Homo sapiens: one gene and its partners. The protein of the gene in region 1 interacts with the protein of each later gene in a pairwise test. Each region holds a gene or a part of one and is shown in the gene's direction. Other genes may lie near its edges.

Region 1 (6,016 bases):
CGCTGGCCTCAGAGATGCACACACAACAGGGAAGCCACTGAGAGCCCTCCTGCATGCAAACAGGTTTGGTAAGAGATGAGGAACTTGTTCTAGGGCAGTGACATCAATATGCCTAGAAAGACAGCAAGGCCGGGCGCAGTGGCTCACACCTGTAATCCTAGCACTTTGGGAGGCCGAGGTGGGAGAACTGCTTGAGCCCAGGGGTTGGAGACCAGCCTGGGCAACAAAGCAGGACCCCATATCTACAAAAATATTAGCCAGGCGTGGTGGTGCAAACCTGTAGTCCCAGCTACTTGGGAGGTTGAGGAGGGAGGATCACTTGGGCCCAGGAGTTCAAGGCTGCAGTGAGCTACAATCACACCATGGCACTTCAGTCTGAGTGAAAGAGATTCTGTCTTTAAGAAATAAAAATTTTTGAAAATGCAGCTGAACAGAAGTGTCAGGGTCAGAACCATGGATCTGGGAAGTTCCTGTTTTGCTCACCTCAGTAAGTACAGTGGAGGGCTGATATTAGTCTCCTGTACACACAAGAGAGAACACTGGTGCTCTAAGAGGCAGAAAGACTTGCTCAAAGTCAGTGTGGCCAAGACCCTGGCCTGGATCTTCTGCCTCGAGATCCATTTTTCTCTCCACCGGTGAGGCTACAGTCTAACTCCAGGCAGGAGTGGGCAAGAGCTATGCCTCTACCCCCAAATTCCACACTTCTCAAGAACCACGTCCACGCTGTCTAGCTCTCTGTTGCTTACCCTGTTGACACCTGTTTGTTGACCGCTCTCCTAATCCTCTTCTCTGCAGGAAGCAGCACTTGCCGCCAAGTTCACTGAAGTTTATGCCATCAACAGACAGAGGCTGCAGAATCTGGAGTTTGCTCTGAATCTCCTCAGACAGGTAACTGATCTTAGTAAGAAATTCTACTTCAGGCTGTTCTAACAGGTGACAAATACAGACTCTGTCTTAGAGAAATGGTTTGTGAATTGATGGAAGTGTCCCCTTGCTAACGTTTCTGGGCAGGGCCAATGCAAAGACTGGCCCGAGCCAATGCTTCTACTGACATGAGAACTTATTCAACTCAGTAAACATCTGCTGAAAGTGAATGCTATTTTCAGCTGGGCATGGTGGCTCACGCTTGTAATCCCAGCACTTTGGGAGGCCGAGGCAGGCGGATCACCTGAGGTCAGGAGTTCGAGACCAGCCTGGCCAACATGGTAAAACTCCGTCTCTACTAAAAATACAAAAATTAGCTGGGCGTCGTGGCGCATGCTTGTAATCCCAGCTACTCAGGAGACTGAGGCAGGAGAATTGCTTGAACCCAGGAGGTGGAGGTTGCAGGGAGCTGAGACTGTGCCACTGCACTCCAGCCTGGGCAACAGAGCGAGACTCTGTCTCAGAAAAAAAGAAAGAAACAAAAGAAAGTGAATGTTATTTTCTGAAGTCCATGATGTTGATGACAGCATTGTTTTTTAATAGCAAGACACTGGAAGCAGTTCACTCTTCATCAGCAATGGGCTAAACTGCGGTCTGTCCAGAGAGCGGAAACAATGCTGCTGGTAAATCCTGAAGCAGCACTCTCTGTGCTGAGCTGGAATGAGCTCTGTAAGTGCAGTGAGCAGCAGGAATACCATTTGTGCAGGAGAGATAAACACATGGTACATACTACAGACAGATATTCTTGTGTGAGCACAGATAGCATCTGCAAGGCTGACAGACACGCCCTAGGACGGGGACCAGAGGTGGGAGACCGTGGTTTCATTTTAAACTCTTCCACAGCTCAAAAATGTTTTACCTGATTAAAAAAAACCCCAAACTAGTTGTTTGATCCTTTTTGAAAGTAACCCTAGAACTCTACAACTAACATGAACTGGCACTGAGGGAGTCCCTTGGGGACCACAGGACAGCCACTCTGACCAGGTGGGGACAGGCCCTACATGTGCTGCCAGAGCCTGGCTTTAACCTTGTCTTGTCTTCTCCATCACAGCAGCCGGAAGTAGAAGTGACCCATGAGACCCTGCAAAGGAATAGGCCGGACTCTGGAGTGGAGGAGGCGTGGAAGATCAGGAAGGAACTGGATGAGGAGACTGAGCGGAGGCGGCAGCTGGAGAACGAGGTCAAGAGCACCCAGGAAGAAATCTGGACCTTGAGGAATCAGGGGCCTCAGGAATCGGTGGTGAGGAAGGAGGTGCTCAAGAAGGTGCCGGATCCCGTGCTGGAGGAGAGCTTCCAGCAGCTGCAGCGGACGCTGGCAGAGGAGCAGCACAAGAACCAGCTGCTGCAGGAGGAGCTGGAGGCACTGCAGCTGCAGCTGCGTGCCCTGGAGCAGGAGACCAGAGACGGGGGGCAGGAGTACGTGGTCAAGGAGGTCCTGCGCATCGAGCCTGACAGGGCCCAGGCGGATGAGGTCTTGCAGCTGCGGGAGGAGCTGGAGGCACTGAGGCGGCAGAAGGGCGCCCGGGAGGCAGAGGTGCTCCTCCTGCAGCAGCGTGTGGCCGCCCTGGCTGAAGAGAAGAGCCGGGCGCAGGAGAAGGTCACAGAGAAAGAGGTGGTGAAACTGCAGAATGACCCCCAGCTGGAGGCAGAGTACCAGCAGCTGCAGGAGGACCACCAGCGCCAGGACCAGCTCAGGGAGAAGCAGGAGGAGGAGCTGAGCTTCCTCCAGGACAAGCTCAAGAGGCTAGAGAAGGAGCGGGCCATGGCCGAGGGCAAGATCACCGTCAAGGAGGTGCTCAAGGTGGAGAAGGACGCGGCCACCGAGAGGGAGGTCAGCGATCTCACCCGCCAATATGAGGACGAGGCTGCCAAGGCTCGCGCTAGCCAGAGGGAGAAGACGGAGCTGCTCCGAAAGATATGGGCCTTGGAGGAGGAGAACGCCAAAGTGGTGGTGCAGGAGAAGGTGCGGGAGATCGTGCGGCCAGACCCCAAGGCGGAAAGTGAAGTGGCGAACCTCCGCCTGGAGCTTGTGGAGCAGGAGCGAAAGTACCGGGGTGCCGAGGAGCAGCTCCGGAGCTACCAGAGTGAGCTGGAGGCCCTCAGGAGGCGAGGCCCCCAGGTGGAAGTCAAAGAGGTGACTAAGGAAGTCATTAAGTACAAGACTGACCCTGAGATGGAGAAGGAGCTTCAGCGGCTCAGGGAGGAGATCGTGGACAAGACCAGACTGATCGAAAGGTGTGATTTAGAGATCTACCAGCTGAAAAAGGAAATCCAGGCCCTGAAAGACACCAAACCCCAGGTCCAGACCAAAGAGGTGGTCCAGGAGATCCTCCAATTCCAAGAAGACCCTCAAACCAAGGAGGAGGTGGCGTCTCTGAGGGCAAAGCTCTCAGAGGAGCAGAAGAAACAAGTGGATCTGGAGAGGGAAAGAGCTTCCCAGGAAGAGCAGATCGCCCGGAAAGAGGAGGAGCTCTCGCGGGTGAAGGAAAGGGTGGTGCAGCAGGAGGTGGTCAGGTATGAGGAGGAGCCAGGCCTGCGGGCCGAGGCGAGCGCCTTTGCCGAGAGCATCGATGTGGAGCTGCGGCAGATTGACAAGCTGCGGGCAGAGCTGCGGCGGCTGCAGCGCCGGCGCACCGAGCTTGAGCGGCAGCTGGAGGAGCTAGAGCGCGAGCGGCAGGCCCGCAGGGAGGCCGAGCGCGAGGTACAGCGGTTGCAGCAGCGGCTGGCAGCGCTGGAGCAGGAAGAAGCTGAGGCCCGTGAGAAGGTAACCCATACGCAGAAGGTGGTGCTGCAGCAGGACCCGCAGCAGGCGCGAGAGCATGCCCTGCTCCGACTCCAGCTGGAAGAAGAGCAGCACCGGCGGCAGCTCCTGGAGGGGGAGCTCGAGACCCTCCGGAGGAAACTGGCTGCACTGGAGAAGGCGGAGGTCAAGGAGAAGGTGGTGCTCTCCGAGAGTGTCCAGGTGGAGAAGGGCGACACCGAGCAAGAGATCCAGAGGCTCAAGAGCAGCCTGGAGGAGGAGAGCCGCAGCAAGCGCGAGCTGGACGTCGAGGTGAGCCGGCTGGAAGCCAGGCTTTCGGAGCTGGAATTCCATAACTCCAAGTCATCCAAGGAACTAGACTTTCTGAGGGAAGAGAACCACAAATTACAGCTGGAGAGGCAAAACCTGCAGCTGGAGACCCGAAGGCTCCAATCGGAAATCAACATGGCAGCGACGGAAACACGAGACCTGCGGAACATGACCGTGGCGGACTCTGGGACCAACCATGACTCCAGACTGTGGTCCCTGGAGAGGGAACTGGATGACCTCAAGAGGCTCTCCAAGGACAAAGACCTCGAGATCGACGAGCTGCAGAAGCGCCTGGGCTCCGTGGCCGTCAAGCGGGAGCAGCGGGAGAACCACCTGCGGCGCTCCATCGTAGTCATCCACCCTGACACAGGCCGCGAGCTGTCCCCGGAGGAAGCCCACCGTGCCGGGCTCATTGACTGGAACATGTTCGTGAAACTCAGAAGCCAGGAGTGCGACTGGGAGGAGATCTCAGTGAAGGGTCCCAATGGGGAGTCCTCAGTGATACACGACAGGAAGTCTGGCAAGAAGTTCTCCATCGAAGAGGCCCTGCAGAGTGGCAGGCTGACCCCTGCTCAGTATGACCGCTATGTCAACAAGGATATGTCCATCCAGGAGCTGGCGGTCTTGGTATCTGGGCAGAAGTAGGCACAGCTCTTGCAACTCTTCGTAACGGCAGACGCTGGCCCTCTCCTACGACGCAGTGACCTCCTTGGTGTCGTCCTCTCCCTTGCCCTGGTGCAGGCCAAGCATTTTATACATACCCTCGCTGCCAGGCTGCTCAGAGTCCCGCCCACATATGAGACAGGCACTGGCTGAAGACAGGCAACTCTCGTCCCAACCATCATTCACCCTGAGTGACGTACTTCATCCTCCAATGACTGGACAACTGCGATGCCTTTTCCTCCCTTTTCCTGTACACTCCCAGCAACAAACTCCTCATGATAACTGCACACAATCTGAAAACCACTGAAGGACAAGCCAACCACAGCAGCCAAGCCCACTCCTTGCAGCATGGGTACTGGTGGCACACCAGACAGTGACACTGCCCCACAAAGGCCTGGGCCCGTGGGGGCTGCTGCCTGGCATGACATCTCTCCAGATTTCTGGCTTAAAACCAACTTTCCATCCGAGAAGCCTCCTCAGTAGTTACTCTGCTCATGAGACAGATCTGGGCTCCAAGCCAGGAAAGGTGAACAGAAACCACAAGTGTCCAGCCCTCGGTGCTGGAGTGGACGTTAATTGTCAGCCACCAGACTGTCCCGGCACCTACAGAGAATGTTTCACAGTTCTGGCATTTAAATCCTTTGATAGTGGATTGTGCTGCTGTTAGCCTTAGTTTCAGTGCTTTACAAGTCTCGCTTATTATCTCACTGGTATTTAGGTATACAAAACAGTTGATTATTCACCACGCCAATATCTGGGTCTCTGTATCTCATGTAGAACATAAGAAAATGGGAACTAATAGGGAAATTTATTTATAGCATGAAAATAAACCTGGTGGCTGGAGTCTGCTTGTACGGTCCACATGTTTCTTCTTTTGCATGCAAGGCTTACTCCCCCGCCCCCCCCCCTTGGCTTTCAGCCAAAATGGATATTCCATCTGTAACAGCTCCTACAGGAAGAACTACTTACTTCCACATGGTAGAAAGAAAAGAGTGAGAAAAAATGTTTTGGAAACCTTGAAACAATTTATTGAATTGCTTTATACAAGATTAACAATCTCCACACCACCCCTAACACCAACATAGTCGCTGCACAAAAGCCACAGCCCCTCTCACACCTAAGAAACGGTCACGCCCGGTAAGTGCTCAGAGACTTTCGCTGCGCCAGGGAAACCCCTGCAGCCCCCAGACCCCGAGGCTGCTCTGCCCCACCCTCTGCTGCGGCCTCGCCTGTAGGTCTGCCTTGCCATGGCTGTTCAGTCATTCGCTCTTTCATTACCACAAATAAAGCATAAACAAGGAAAAGAAATCTCAAACTCCCCATCAAAGAAACGTTTCCCTGAGGCAAGAGGCATCACTA
Region 2 (6,070 bases), on another chromosome or scaffold:
TTCTTGGCCCCAGACCTAGGCCCTGGGGGATCCCCTGAACCCACTGGAGAGTGTGCAGGGCTGGCCCCTGTCCCCAAGATCCCAGGCTCCCCATTTCTCCCAGGTGTCCTGCTTTTTATCTCATCTTCATGTTGAGGCCGTTTTATTTGACCCTCAAAGAGGAAGACCAGCTTCTAGGGCTGTCCCCGCCCCAGGACCAAGAGTCCTGCAGGGCTAAGTCTCCCACTGTGCATGTCACACACTGCACAACTAACTCCAGGGGGTGCCGCTCATATTTGAAATCACAGTCAATGCTTGAAGTCACGACAGTTTTCCAGAAGATGGCATTAAGGATCTCGAAGAAGGGGGCATTTTCTAATCCATACAAACTTGCTTTTGGGCTTGTGGTGGAGGTCGATCCTGTCTCAGCAGCCCCTACTTTCCTCCCCCGGACCCTGTCAAAGAATTCTAGCACAGTGCCCACAACCCCTCGCTTTGGGGTCCTAAAGGGAAGGGCCTGCATTGCCAGAGCCCTGGTCCCTTGAAGTGTGTGTTAGAATGTTCCAATAGAGGCCTGGCACAGTGACTCACACCTGTAATCCCAGGACTGAGATGGGAGGCTGAGGTGGGTGGATCATGAGGTCAGGAGTTCAAGACCAGCCTGGCCAACATGGTGAAACCCCATTTTGCCGGAGGCTCCCCGGCAAAAATACAAAAATTAGCTGGGCATGGTGGCTCATGCCTGTAATCTCAGCTACTCTGGAGGCTGAGGCAGGAGAATCACTTGAACCCAGAGGTGGAGGTTCCAATGAGGGAAAATCCCGCCATTGCACTCCAGCCTGGGCAACAAGAGCAAAAACTCCCAGGCGCTAGACAAACAGAAGACAGTCACCTGTCGGCTAACAAACGTTTATTGCTGTATTATTCCTTTATCTCTGGTGAGAATGAACACCTTACTTGACATCTTTACCCCTGAGTCTCTGCCCAGCAGGGCCCATGTTCCTATCCCTGTGTATCCAACCCCTTTGGTCTCTGTGAGTGTTTAATGGGGTGGTGGCAGTATTGGGCTTTCTGTGGTGGCTCCATCTCCACCCAGGTGTTGCTGATTGAAATAGCTCGAAAATTACTTTGACCCTCCTGCTGGCAGACCCACCTCCACCCTTCAACTTCTCCTCTCCCACCACCCCAAGAGTCCCAGATGCCCTTCCCCCACCCACCCCATCCTGCTCGCTCAGGCCTAGTCACCTCCTTAGTTGCTCCACCTGTCAGCGCCTTCTGCACCCAGAGCTGGGATGAGAAATGGAAAATTCCCAGCTCCCTTGTGCTCCCTTCCTGGCTGCAGGACCTTATCCAGGGGTCACCTTGAATTGAGTGCTGATCCCCCTGCAGGAAAGCAAGTCTGAGCTGACAGCCAGGAGGGAGGGCTTACAAGGGAGTCCAGGGATGTGGGCTGCAGCGCCTTGAGGCCCCTGCTCCAAGGGGGGCCCAGCTGGGGGCTGGAGGGCAGGACTGGGGATCCCGCCACAGCGCCAGAGTGCAGGGGTGCAAGGGTGGGTCGGGAGCCTCAGGGCAAGAGCCTGGGGCCTGAGGGGTGGGAGAGGGAGCCTTGGAGGATGAGGTCAGCACAAGGGCCTGCGCAGGTGGGGCCTGAGAGTGGGGCTTGAGGGAGAGCCAGGTTCTGGGACCAGGAGCCCAACGTCGTGGAGCCAGCCTGGAGCCCGGCCCTGGGGGCTGTTGAGCCAGGCCTGAGTCGCCCTCTGGTGGCCACTTCCCAGACTGCAGCCAGACCCTGTCACCCCAGACTCCCAGCCCTCTTCCAAGCCCTGTTGCTCCTCTTCCCAGTGTCCCTTCTCCAAGCTCACTTCCCTTCCTCTCCTCAAACCCTCGCTTCCTCTGAGACCCCAGACCCAGGTCCCAGGCCCATAGGCGATTTTTTTTTTTTTTTTTTTAAGACAGAGTTTTGCTCTTGTTGTCCAGGCTGGAATTCAGTGGCACGATCTCGGCTCACTGCAACCTCCGCCTCCCAGGTTCAAGCGATTCTCCTGCCTCAGCCTCCAGAGTAGCTAGGATTACAGGCACCCCCCACCATGCCCAGCTAATTTTTTGTACTTTTAGTAGAGCCAGGGTTTCACCATGTTGGCCAGGCTGGTCTCAAACTTCTGACCTCAGGTGATCCACTCGCCTCAGCCTCCCAAAGTGCTGGGATTACAAGCGTGAGCCACCACACCTGGCTTTTTTTTGAGACAAGATCTCACTCTGTCGTCCAGGCTGGAGTGCAGTAGCACGATCTCGGCTCACTGCAACCTCCACCTCCTGGGTTCAAGCGATTCTCCTGCCTCAGCCTCCTGAGTAGCTGGAATTGCTGGCACCCTCCACCACGCCTGGCTAATTTTTGTATTTTCAGTAGAGATGGGGTTTCTCCATGTTGGCCAGGCTGGTCTCAAACTCCTGACCTCAAGTGATACACCCACCTTGGCCTCCCAAAGTGCTGGGATTACAGGTGTGAGCCACCACGCCTGGCCTTTACGCTGTATTCATCTTCTAGGGCTTTGGGCTCAGTTTCTGTTGCCATGGTAACCTTTCCCATTTTTGGTCTTCTCTGGAGACTCAGGGACCCTCTGGCCAGATCCCAGGGGTCACCCATGATGTGAGCCTTGTGGGGTTTTTTGGTGGGAGAGCGCTCATGATCTATGGAAGACCACGAGCACGTCAGAACGCCCCCTACCCCAGCCACCTCCACCCTCTTTCCCAAGGCCTTGAGTGACGGAGGGGACAGAATGGGGTCGGAGGTGGCGAGGGGCCTCCGAAGGCCAGCCCCTTCCTCTCCCTTCACACCCTTCACTCCCCGCTCAGACCCAGGCTTCTGCCCCACGCCCCTCCCCTGGCCCAGCCACCAGCTGACTTCCTCGGCCGGCCCCCTCCCCTCCACTCTGGGATTGGTGCCAGGGTGAGAAGGGGACACTGGCACTGACCGTGTCTGGGAATTCCCGCCCACCGAGGAGCTGAAAGGAGGGGGGGTCCCCGTGTCCCCAAGGAGCCAATAGCAGCCAGGCCTTGCCCTTGGGGGGGTGGTGTATATCTTTCAGGCCAGCACCCCCGAGGCACTGTCTCCTCTCTGCCTGCCTGGCACCAGCCAGACCCTGCTCTGCCCGGGGGGCTCTGAGCCCCCCAGGCATTCCCTTCACTGCATCCCTCTCCATTGGGGGGGTGTCTAAGGACCCTTTCCCCTTGGGCATGGCCCAGCCAGGGGTCTCTGTCAAGTCCCTGGTGTCGTCTTATGAGACCCGAGTGGTGGGGATGGCTCCGGGGCTGCCCCGAAAAAGGGGCTGTGCCTCTTCCCCTTGCTCTCCCCGGGGTGCATCCCCCATCCGAGGGACATCTGGGCCCCCGCCCCACCGGGGCCTGGGAGGCCCTGGGCAGCGGCCTTCAACCCGCAGGGGGATGGACAAAACCCTCCTCTCCCTCATTCTCTACTGTCACAGGTACAGGGGGGTGTGGGCGGGAGGCTGTGGTCCAAGAAACCAGCACCTGGGAAGGCTTCTCCTCTCCTCCCCTCACCTTCCTGTGTCTCTCCAGTGGCTCCGGAAGCCTGGTTGGCATTGACAACAAAATCGAGCAAGCCATGGTAAGAGAAGCCATCTTGGTCCCAGGAGGTCCTGGCCCCCTTAAGCCATCCCTCTGCCCCAGCCCTGTCCTCTTCCTTACCAGGGAACACCAACTCCCAGCTCCTCCGTCCCTCTCCCTGCTGGGCTGCTGGGCATCCTCTGCCCCCTCCTGCCACCACCTCCACCCTTGACTTTGCCCAGCCTCTAGTCTGGCTACTGGTCCCCATCTCTGTCTTTGAGCCCTGACTCTGCCTCTGTCCCTCGTCCTTTTCCCCTGTCCCTTCCCTGCTTTGTCCCTCATCCTCTGGACACTGGGGACTGTCTCCCACCCCAGCCCTCAAGGCACTGGGCAGGGGATGAGGCACCCACCCCGTTGACGCTGTGCCTGTCCCGGGGCCCCCAGGACTTGGTGAAGTCCCACCTCATGTTTGCGGTCCGGGAGGAGGTGGAGGTGCTGAAGGAGCAGATCCGGGAATTGGCGGAGCGGAACGCTGCGCTGGAGCAGGAGAATGGGCTGCTGCGCGCCCTGGCCAGCCCGGAGCAGCTGGCTCAGCTGCCCTCCTCGGGGGTCCCACGGCTTGGGCCCCCTGCGCCCAATGGGCCCTCCGTCTGAGCCTCCCTTCCCTTACAATGTGCCTTTGGGGCTGCCCGGCCTTGCGTCAGCCGCCTGCCCCCTCTTCCTATGCAGCTTTAATGTCCCCGTGTCCCCGGGGTGGGAGTTCAAGGCTCAGTAATGGCCTGGTCCCCCGGCCCCTGCCCCATCTCCTCATCATCCCCAGCCTTGATGGAGGAGGGAGGGCTTCAGGACGGGGCGTCAGAGGGAGCCCCCTCTGGGAGGGAACCAACCCCCACCCTCCCTCCTGGGACCCCCCAGCAGTAGACGGCTTGGGGGAGTCGGAGGCTCCCCGGCAGACACCCCACCCCCATCTTGTTCCCTTGAGGTGCCTCCTCTCCTCTGCCCAGGGGAGGGAGTGTGGACAGTATCTGGAAGTTCTGGGATTCAGGTTGTTATTAAAATAATAATAATAATTAAAAACTCTGAAGAAACTTGAATTTGGAGGTTGACATCTCGTTCGTTGCTTGTGTTCAGACTCAGGGGTCGCGCCTGCCATTTAGGGCTCCCCTGAGATCTTTTGCAGACTGGGGAGGTTTAAAGCGTGGGAGACGGAGGAATTGAGACAGAGGCTGGAGAAGGGAGCCAGCGGTTCGGGTCCTGGGAAGGGGCAAGTGAGGATTGGGGGTGGGGGGGCGTCTGCCCACGTGCTGGGCGGGGGGCTGGGAAACAATAAGGTCTTTGGTGGTTGCCCAAGATCCACCCCTGGCTTCCCAGTGTGTCCCCTCTGCGGGCTGGATCCGGGTGGCTGCTTGGGGGCGGGGCGGGGGGCCCTGAATGGGCCCCTTGTCTCGGGGCTGGGTGTGGGCCAGGCTCCCCGGGCACACGGTGCCCTTGCCAGGCCTGGCCAGCCGCCGTGGCTCCCACCCCCGGCCAGCTGAGGACGGGCCCTGTGGGTGAGCTGGCCCCTCCCTGGCAGCCTGGGCTCCGGTCCCAGGCGGAAGAGTCAGCAGCAATGGAGAAGGACCCCATCTAGTGGGGAAGAGGCGAGAGCTGCAGCTGTAGCCCCAGGAGGCCCCTAGCCCCGGGATCCCCTGGCCCCAGCAGCCTCCAAGGAGGCTGACCTGTCTTGGAGTGCCTGACTCTCTGCCTCCTTAGGTTTCCCTAGGTTCATAACCTTGGGCAACTTCTTTGGTTTTTCTTTTTTTTTTTTTCATTTCTCCTTTCTTTTTTTGAGACAGGGTATTGCTCTGATGCCCAGAGTGCAGTGGCACAATCACAGCTCCCTGCAGCCTCCACGTTCCTGGCTCAAGTGATCCTCCCGCCTTGGCCTCCCTGAACTATAGGTGTGCGCCACCACGTTCAGCTAATTTTCTTTATTTTTGTAGAGATGGGGCCTTGCTATGTTGCACAGGCTGGAGTGCAGTGGTGTGATCATAGATCACTGCAGTCTTCAACTCCTGGGCTCAAGTGATCCTCCCACTTCAGCCTCCTAAGTAGCTGGGACTACAGGCATGTGGCACTATGCCCAGCTAGAGTCGAAGTTTCGCTCTTGTCACCCAGTCTGGAATGCAGTGGTGAGATCTCAGCTTACTGCAACCTCCACCTCTCAGGTTCAAGCGATTTCCATGCCTCAGCCTCCTGAGTAGCTGGAACTACACGTGTGCACCACCACACCCAGCTAATTTTTTTTTTTTTTCGTATTTTTAGTAGAGAAGGGGTTTCACCACTTTGGTCAGGCTGGTCTCAAACTCCTGAACTCAAGTAATCTGCCTACCTCAGCCTCCCAAAGTGCTGGGATTACAGGCATGAGCCACTGCGCCTAGCCTAAATTTTTTGGTAGAGACCATCTCGCTATATGGCCCAGGCTGATCTCAAACTGCTGGCTTCAAGTAATCCTCCCACCTTGGCGTCCCAAAGTTCTGGGATTACA
Region 3 (9,874 bases), on another chromosome or scaffold:
TGCTGGTGCTTCCGTTAGTCCACGGGCGACTTTTCCGCAAAAGCCCCGGAGTGTTGGCGCACCAGCCAGGTTACCCTGGGTCTGTAGGATCAGTCCATGTCAGATTGGGGCGCAGTAAGTGAAGGCGCGGGTCAGGCTCCTATGCCAGTACAGGCTTTGCTTTCCCACTCCGGCGGGAGTCTGTGTTGCAGCGTGTTTCCCTCTGCCTGCTGAGCTCCGGGAGGCCAGACACTGCCTTTGACCCCTTGCCCCAGTGCCGGACAGCAAGTAGGCACTCGGTAAATGTTTGTTCACTGAATGAATCAGCTCGCCAAAGGTCTGGACGGTGGTCTGACTAGTACTGACTGGGTGTACCTCGGCGACTGTGAGTCAGAACTACTACTGTTAGGAATAAAGCAGCCTATTTCAAGAAAACCCCGGAACCTCCTTTTCTGGTTTGGGTTCTTGCATAATAGTTGAAAATACTGATGGGTGAGATTTACAGACCTAAGGACTAGGGCCTTGCTGCGGTTCTATTGCCCTGCCTCATATGTGTGTATGTGAAGTTGGGGAGTTGGCTGGGGCCATCAGAGTCTTGCTGTCAGTGGGCCTCTCTGGCTCATAACTGCATCAGTTGATGTTATTACAATTTTCCTGTGTGCCACACGTTCACACGTTGTTCTAGGCATTGGGAACAAAAAACAGAAAAGTTCTAGGTGCTCATGGAGCTTGCAATCTAATAGGAGAGGGAAGGGAGTAGAAAATAAGTAAAAAACACAAATAATAATATCAGATCGTGGTTACTACTGTGCAGAAAGTTAAAATAAGGTGATGTGACATGGAGTGACTGGGTGGCTTGGTTGTACTGGGAGATCGGGATGGTGTTTCTGAATAGGCAACATTTAAAGTAAAATTTGAATGACAAGAAGGAGACATCATGTGATGATGAGTTGGCAAAGCATTTCGGGAAGAGCGAACAGCCAGGGCAAGGGCTTAAGGCAGAAAAGAGCTTGGAGTTTAAGGAGCAGGAAGGCTGGAATGTGGTGCACAAGGGAGAAAGTGGCATGAGGAGAGGTCACAGGTAGGAGAAAGGTAAATGCCGCAAAGCTTTGTGAGCCGGGGTGAGGAATTTTCATACTTTATTCTAAGCCCAGTGAAACGTCATTGGAGGGTTTTAAGCAGGGAAATGGCATGATTTGGTGTGTGTTTTTAGAACGATCACTGTGAGGAGATTGGATTGTAGGTGGCCACTGCAGGGGGAGGCAGGAGAGCAGCTGAGGCTGTTGCCCTCTTCCAGGCAGGAGTTAGAAGTGGCTTGCCTGAGGGTGGTAGCACAGTAGACAGGGAGTAGTGGTCACATTCAGGCTGTGTTTAGGAAATAGGCTCTTCACACCTTCATGATGGACTGAATAGTCTGTGGGAGAAAGAGAAGAGGCAAAGATGACTCCTCAGGGCTTGGGCACCTGAGTGGATAGCATTCATATCGTTGAGATGGGAAGAGCCGGTTTGGGGTGGAGGAGAATCATGAGATCTTGTTTTGCCATCTTACATTTGAGATATGAGTATGTCAGATAGTGTGATCTGAAGCTTGGTGGGGAGAGAGGACAGAAGAGACCCATTGGGTATAATAGATGTTATTCAAGGCCATGGGATTAGATGAAATCCCCTAGGAAGAGAGTACAGACAGAAGAGAGATGTTCTGAGGCTTTGGATGGTCAAAGCAGTGTTTAGAGGGGTGAGAGGTGAAGCCAGCAAGGAGACTGAGAAGGACTGAGAAGGTAGGAGAAACCCCAGGAGAATGCATGGTCACAGAAGCCTTAAAGGACAAAATCTGACTGGAGTAGGTGGAAGATAAAACACGGGGTGAAGACAGGGAGTCAGTTAGGCAAATCTTCCAGGTAGTTTTGTTGCAAAGTGGAGTTGAGACATTAGCCGGTAATTGGAGAGGATGTGGGTTTGAGGGAGGGTTCTTTTTTTTGGTGGGAGATTGTACAGCATGTTTGTTTTGATGGGAATGATCCCACTGAGAGGAAGAAGTCGATGCTGCAGTAAAGAGACGGGGCAGTTGCTGGAGCAGTGTTTCTAAGAAGGTGAGAGGGATGGGATCCATGGCCTGCATCTCACTAGCGTCACCCAGGGGCAGGGCCCATCATTCATTTGGCGGGAGGAAGGGCTGCAAGTGTCCCAAAGTACCAGGTGCAGCCTTGGGCTGGGTGTGTGAGGCCGCGTGTGGGACTCTGGAGGCTGGAGCACAGCCTTCCACACCTTTGCTGACTCTTCCATGGTAACTTGTCTGTGAGGTCCCTAATGATTTTCCTACAGTGAGCTCCTGTGCCCCCAGGGCCTTGGCTGACTCCTCCCAGGCCTAGAAAAAGCAATGTGTGACAGTGTTCCCTACCCTCAAAGGCAGGGCCCTGTGGCAGGTGATTGTACTTCTGACGTCCTTCTGTGACAATTTTTTGAGAGACTTAAGGGTTTTGGGAGTAATTGTTCTCTCCCTCATCCCCCGCCCCCCACATGAAAAATGTTTTACTGTTGTCTGATTTCTTAGCTTTGCCGTGAGCATTTCTGAATGTTTGATTTTTGTGTTGAGGGCAGGAGCCTCCTCTAATCTGGCTCATAAAGTGAGAGCGACAAAGCATTGACATGGCTGATTTTATTTTTCCTAATGGCTCCTTGCACAGGAAAGTTGTGTGAGGTTTTACAGGATGTATTCAGTTGCTCCTCATATTTAGCAGATTAAAACATTTTAATTTTTGAAAAAATTTTAAGAAACAGAATCTTCCTCTGTCTCCTAGTCTGGAGTGCAGTGGTGCAATCATAGCTCACTGCAGCCTTGAACTCCTGGGGCCAAGTGATCCTCTCACTTCAGCCTCCCAAGTAGCTGGAACTACAAATGCAGGCCACCATGCCTGGCCAGCAAATGTTTTAATACTCTCCAGAGTCCATTTCTTTTCTTTCTTTTCTTTTTCTTTCTTTTTTTTTTTAAAGACAGCTTTGCTCTGTCGCCCAGGCTGGAGTGCAGTGGCACGATCTCAGCTCACTGCAACCTCTGCCTCTTGGGTTCAAGTGATTCTCATGCCTCGGCCACCCCCTAAGTAGCTGGGACTACAGGTGTGCACAACCATGACTGGCTAATTTTTGCATTTTTAGTAGAGACAGGGTTTCACCATGTTGGCCAGGCTGGTCTCAAACTCCTGACCTGAAGTGATCCGCCTGCCTCAGCCTCCCAAAGTGCTCGGATTACAGGCATGAGCCACTGTGCCTGGCCTCGGAGTCCATTTCTTGAAGCAGAAAAGCTTGAGGTTAGGCAGGTGAATTTTTGTTTTGATTTCTGCACTTTTTGTTCAATTTTGCATTAATGAGGGACAAAATGTATAAGAAATCTACTGTTGGTTCTCCCAGTTCTAGACTAAGTGATGTTGATAACCCCTTTAAAAAGATTTTTTGGCTGGGTATAGTGGCTCATGCCTGCAATTCCACACTTTGGGAGGCGGAGGCGAGGGGATCACTTGAGGCCAGGAGTTCAAGATCAGCCTGGGCAACACGGAGAGGCCTCATCTGTACAAAAAATGAAAAAATTAATGGTGGTATGCTCCTGTAATCCTAGCAACTTGAGAGGCTTAAGTGTGAGGATTGCTTGAGCCCAGGAGTCTGAGTTTACCATGAGCTATGATTGTGATACTGTACTCCAGCCTGGATGACAGAGTGAGACCCTGTCTGTAAATAAATAAATAAATAAATAAATAAAACGAAGACTTTTTGTACTCTAGCACTTCTCTACTATGAATCCCTTAGCTGGGTAGCAAGGTATAATAGTAATTGTGATAATAGTGTCATTAACAGAAGTAGCAATAATAGTAGTAATAATTATATAACAGCCTAATCTTTTTGGGTCTTTGAAAAATGCTAGGAACTGTTCTGTAACTGTCATTGATTTAATTCTCACAATAGTTTGATGAGGTAGGAACTACTACTAGTTTCGTTTTACAGACATAGAATCTTGCCGTAATCCTGGACATTCCTATAGCAGATGGTTTTTTTTCTTGTGTCTTTTCTTATTTGATCCTTATAGCAGCCCCTGGAGGCAGGAGGGGAAGAATCATCCCCATTCTTCAGATGATGAAACTCAGGTCCATGAAGGTTCAATGATTTTGCTGAAGTGTTAGAGCTGGGACTGGAACATAGGTCTTTGGTCCCTCATGTGATAGCCACAGTAGTAGTGGTAGCTCCTACCCCAGGCCATGCATCTTGAAGGAGATGAATGCCCATATGCCATTGCTCTGAGTTAGGCTTCCCCAAGGCTTATGGGGCCAGACTCCATCTTTGCTTTTTCTGGGGATTGAGGTACTTTGGAAGGGCAGTACCCCCTGGTCTCCTATGTTGATTAGGGGTGGTACATGTCTCTGATTAGTAAGAAATTGAAGACATTGATTATTAGTAAATACAATTTGGCAGACACAGCTTTTTCAAACATGGGACCTATGAGGGAGAAGTTTCTAGAAGAGGCCATGGGAGTTAGAGTATTACACTGGGCTGCTCTTCAGGGGTTTCATGGAACCTTGTGAATTCCGTTCCCCCTACAGCAGGCATTAAATAGGTCATGAGGCAATGAGGAGATGGCAGAGAAGAGGGGCTCAGCCACCTTGCCTGTGCCAAGGCTGTTCCTTGAAGGCAGGCATCTTATTCCCCACTTCTGTGACTTAGGCACCCAGCCCAGGGCTGGGAGCTGAGTAGGCACTTGGCATCTCTTGAGGAATCAGTGTTTTAAAGAGACCCAATGAGTTTTCTAGGTATTCCAGGTCTTGGAAAACTCCTTACTGGGAAGGAGATTGGGGTGGAGGAGAATAAGCAAGGTGAGAGAAGCTCAACAGCCAGGAACAGGCCTGTCAAGGCTGGTGCCTAGACCCAGGCTTCTTGGATACAGTCGCTTGCTGTTGAGAACAATGCTCAAAGCAGGAAGCTGGCTGGTGGAGGCTCAAACGGCCTCCTCTGCGTCTTCATTTCATATCCTTATTGCTCTGCATCTGGGACTGGGATACCTGTTGGCTACTGGACTAGGCTGTCTTCCTTCCCTGGCTGCTGGGCCCTTGGCATCATCTGTGACTTGGCACAAGGGTGCTGGCAGGAACCAGCTGATTGCACAAGACCCTTTCTAGCTTCAGGTTTCTCAGTTTTAGCTTTGGGGTTGTGTGGAGCCACCCTGTGTAGGTACTTTCTTCTTGTGGGTGCCTGTCCCCAAGTGAGGACAGCTAGACTCTGGGAAAGACATTTCTGAGGCTTGGAGTAAGGCTAACTTTCCCCTCCCCTAGGACCTGAAGCAGGTCCTAGGGGCAGGACTGGCTACATAATTTGCAGAGCCTCAGTGTAAAATGAAAATGCAAGGCTCCTTATTGAAAAAGAAGGAAAAAGTATTAGCTTGGTGCAAATGTAATTGCGGTTAGTGCTATTACTTTTAATGGTAAAAACTGCAATTACTTTTGCACCAACTGAATATCTTTAGGCCGGGCGTGGTGGTTCACACCCAGTAATCCCAGCACTTTGAATGGCCAAAGCAGGAGGATTGCTTGGGCTCAGGAATTTGAGACTAGCCTGGGCAACATGGTAAAACCCTATCTTTACAAAAAATACAAAACTTAGCCGGGTGTGATGGTGCATGGCCATAGTCCCAGCTATTAGGGAGGCTGAGGTGGGAGGATCACTTGAGCTTGGGAAGCGGAGGTTGCCGTGAACTGAGCTCACGCCACTGCACTCCAGCCTGGGCGACAGAATGAGACTCTGTCTCAAAAAAAAAAAAAAAAAGCATCTTTAGAGATCCTAAAATGTAAAATTTTGTTCTTCTGTAGTTTTTCCCTTGACTTGTCATTTAAAAAAAAATAAAATTGCTATTTATGGGCATGGTGGCGAGTGCCTGTAATCCCAGCTACTTGGGAGGCTGAGCCAGGAGGAACGCTTGAACCCAGGAGGTGAAGGTTGCGGTGAGCCAAGATTGCACCATTGCACTCCAGCCTAGGCAACAAGAGTAAAACTCTGTCTCAAAAAAAAAATTTTTTTTTCTATTTAATGTAATTCTACATAAAGAAAAATTAAGTTTAAATTATTAGCATAAATTTTATAGTTATTTCTATATTGTAGAATATAATGTTTTAAATGTGAATATCAGTGCATTTACCTCATATGCTAGGAGTTGCCACCACCATGCCCCACTCCAAGACACCATAGAGCACAAGCACCTGTATCCATGCCCCCCTGGGCAGCAGGGAGGAGCAGGGAGCCCAGGCAGGGCTTAGGGCTCCAGGAGGCTGGGAGTGGGCAGTTAAGAACCTGGTCCTCCGAGGCAGGGAGTGGGGACCAGGCATGAGTCCTTCAGAAGGTTACCTCTGGAGATAATGCCAAGTATCAAGGGTGTGTGTTTTGTATTCAGCAACCCATTTTTTAGTCTGAAATCAAAGGGAGTTGGAGAGTGAAGGATGAACCAAATGTGACAGATGTTCAGTTGGGGATTTTGTAGACACCAGGCCTAGAAGGCCCTTAGGAAAGCCAGTGAATACTGGACAGCCCAGGAGGCTGCCCTTAATTATGACCTCACCCAACCGACAGTCTTCTGGGCCACCCCTAGGAAGGAGTCTGTCCTGTCTTCTATATTTTCCTCCCTAGATAAATGTTGAACTTCATGGCAGTGAAATTTATCTTGTAGAATGTCAAACCTATTGATTCACTTATATATCATCTTCCTTTTTTTTTTTTTTTGAGACTGAGTCTTGCTGTGTCACCCAGGCTGGAGTGCAGTGGCGGCATCTCGGCTCACTGCACCTCTGCTTCCCGGGTTCAAGCGATTCTTCCACCTCAGCCTCCTGAGTAGCTGGGACTACAGGCATGCGCCACCATGCCTGGCTATTTTTTTGTATTTTTAGTACAGATGGGGTTTCACCATGTTAGCCAAGCTGGCCTTGAACTCCTAACCTCAGGCAATCCGCCTGCCTTGGCCTCCCAGAGTGCTAGGATTACAGGTGTGAGCCACCGTGCCTGGACGTTTTTTTTTTTTTTTTAGATGGAGTTTCATTCTTGTTGCCCAGGCTGGAGTGCAGTGGTGTGATCTCGGCTCACTGCAACCTCCGCTTCCCTTGTAGCTGGTGTTACAGGCGCCCACCACCATGCCCGGGTAATTTAGTAGAGACGGGGTTTCACATGTTGGTCAGGCTGGTCTTGAACTCCTGACCTCAGGCTGTCCACCCGCCTTGGCTTCCTAAAGTGCTGGGATTACAGGCATGAGCCACCATGCCCAGCCTTATTTGTCATCCTTCTTATTGAGATGTTGCTGGGAACAGCAGTCCCAGAAACTTTATTTCAAACCTGGGGGTAATAGTCCCACAAAGAATTTCTGGGAAACTAGCAGCTTACATATATACTAAAATAGAAATTCTGAACCCCCTCATTGAAGGTTAAGAAAGGTTTTCCCAGCTTGGCAAGTTTTGGCAGAATCCCATGCTTTATATTTCACTTCCTGGTTGCATTTTCAAGGGTAAAAACTGGTTCATGGATTTAAACGTTAGGTTCTGTGGGAAAGGAAAAACAGTGAGTGTTGTTTAGAAAGCGAAAGGAAGGATTAGGAGCCATGATTTATACCACATCTCCAAAAAGAAACTTCTTTAAGGAAACGTCTTTAAGAAAAATGGTTGCAAGTTGCTTTTTAAGGCTCTTTACCCATGAGAGGAGTGTGTTTTAGAGATAGGACAGATGCTGGGTTGGGAAGAGGTGTTTTCATGTGATGAGGGTGGGTGTAGGTTTCTTGTGCCTTGATGGCACCCTCTCCATTCTCTCTCTCTCTCTTTCTTTTTTTGTTTTGAGACAGAGTTTTGCTCTGTCACCTAGGCTAGACTGCAGTGGCATGATCTCAGCTCACTGCAACCTCTGCCTCCTGGGTTCAAGCAATTCTCTTGCCTCAGCCTCCTGGGTAGCTGGGATTACAGACACCCACCACCACGCCTGGCTAATTTTTGTATCTTTAGTAGAGACGGGGTTTCACCATGTTGGCCAGGCTGGTCTCAAACTCCTGACCTCAAGTAATCTGCCCACCTTGGCCTCCTGGAAGTGCTGGGATTACAGGCGTGGGCCACCGGGCCCAGCCTCCATTCTCTTTTGATGTCTATGGGAGTAAATTTGGTGCTTCCTAAATTGAGAACTTTGGAAAAAAATTAAGACAGCACTTTAAACAGAAACGTGTGCAGGGGCAGGGAGATGCCAGTTTACCCCCCCCGTTAAGTCTGAGGTGACAGAGGGCTGTAGGAAGACTGCTTGTTGGCTTTTCAGCCTCAATATGTGGAATATTTGGCAATTCAGTGAGGTACCTGCTCTTGTTTTCTATCTTCAGAGGACAGCACAGGTTTGAATCTCTTTGCTCAGTGTAAGACAGCATCATCTCAGCAAACTGGCAGGTATCTTAAGTAAATATTGGCAGAGGGAAAAACACGGAGGAATATGGTTGTATTTGCCTGTTGTTTTTAAATGGCTGTCAAAACATTTGCTTTTCAATTTTCTGAAATGAGAAATATTTTGAGTTAATGTTTTATCATTTACAGAGTATTTCACGAACATTCTCTGGTTTGTCCCATAATTATTGCATTTTTTTAGTGCGGGAATTTGGGCTCAGAGGGGTAAAGTGACTTCTCTAAAGTTGTATACTGGGCTGGGCATGGTGACTCATGCTTGTAATCCCAGCACTTTGGGAGGCCGAGGTGGGCAGATCACCTGAGGTCAGAAGTTTAAGACAAGCTTGGCCAATGTGGTGAAACCTCATCTCTACTAAAAATACAAAAATTAGCTGGGTATGGTGGTGCGTGCCTGTAATCCCAGCTACTCGGGAGGCTGAGGTAGGAGAATCACTTGAACCCAGGAGGCAGAGGTTACAGTGAACTGAGATTGCGCCATTGCACTCCAGCCTGGGCGACAAGAGTGAAACAGTGTCTTAAAAAAAAAAAAGAAAAAGAAAAAGGAAAAAAAAGGTGTATACTGCATTAGCTCAGCTTCTTCAAAGTTCAAGGGAGAGGCCTGGACATATTGTTCCTCATATCCAGGCTTCTCAGACATTTCAGCCATAGGTCTAATGGCAGAACAGAATGAAGGCCAACTCACCTAGGAGACTGGATGCAGGAAGTGCCATTAAATGTTGGTTCTGTCCAAAAACTCATTGACAGACTAAAATTAATTGAGACTTTACCCTCAATTTAATTTATTATGTAATCCTTTCTTATATCTTCCTTTCAAATCAATTCTTCGGCCAGATGCATCATGTTTATTGCTTTGTGTTCTAAATAGAAATGTGTACCGGCAGAGGAATGCGAGTTCCCCCTGTTCAGTCTTAGGTGACAGAGGAGTGCGGAGAGACTCCTTGTTGGCTTTTCAGCCTCTCTGGGCCCTACATCTCCAAACAGGATGTACAGGAGGACTTAAGGAAAGTATCAGCAGTTGTGGTAACCTTGGATTGTCTTTTGCTTGTACTGAGTTGTGAGTTGTGCCGGATCACTTCTCTGTCTCATCCAGCCCTCTTCAGGATACTGGCCTGGGCAGCAGGGTTGGTTTTTGTTGAAGCCCAAAGCACAGCTAGGCAACTTCATCATGCAGAAAAATGTATGAAAAGGGCTTTTGATGTGGGTGACAGCATGTGTAAAGAGACGGTATCCAAGTGTGTGGACTTTGGAGTCAGACTACCTAGACTCTAATTCACCTCCACCACATACAGCTCCCTGACCTTGGCAGGTTACCTGCTCTCTTTAAGCCTCACTTCCTCACCAGTAAAATGGGGTTAAATGTGAGGATTATGTGAGTTAATTGATGGATGGAAAGGGTTTAGCAAGTAGTAGTGCCACGTTTACTGGCACATTGTAAATGCCCAATA

The links.
Region 2: the proteins of PPL (region 1) and TSC22D4 interact in binary tests that used the Homo sapiens proteins (3 or more experiments, as listed by UniProt).
Region 3: the proteins of PPL (region 1) and PLEKHA7 interact in binary tests that used the Homo sapiens proteins (3 or more experiments, as listed by UniProt).

The regions. Positions count from the first base shown.
Region 1 is NC_000016.10:4,882,007-4,888,022, reverse strand, and holds the end of PPL (periplakin), read left to right. Parts: intron 1-795; coding exon 796-888; intron 889-1,975; coding exon 1,976-4,639; 3' UTR 4,640-5,516; downstream 5,517-6,016. UniProt on the Homo sapiens protein: Component of the cornified envelope of keratinocytes. May link the cornified envelope to desmosomes and intermediate filaments. May act as a localization signal in PKB/AKT-mediated signaling.
Region 2 is NC_000007.14:100,465,086-100,471,155, reverse strand, and holds the end of TSC22D4 (TSC22 domain family protein 4), read left to right. Parts: intron 1-3,555; coding exon 3,556-3,604; intron 3,605-3,987; coding exon 3,988-4,197; 3' UTR 4,198-4,637; downstream 4,638-6,070. Other genes in the region: TSC22D4-C7ORF61 (uncharacterized protein LOC122198330), read left to right, coding at 3,556-3,604.
Region 3 is NC_000011.10:17,003,482-17,013,355, reverse strand, and holds part of PLEKHA7 (pleckstrin homology domain-containing family A member 7), read left to right. Parts: intron 1-9,874. UniProt on the Homo sapiens protein: Required for zonula adherens biogenesis and maintenance. Acts via its interaction with CAMSAP3, which anchors microtubules at their minus-ends to zonula adherens, leading to the recruitment of KIFC3 kinesin to the junctional site.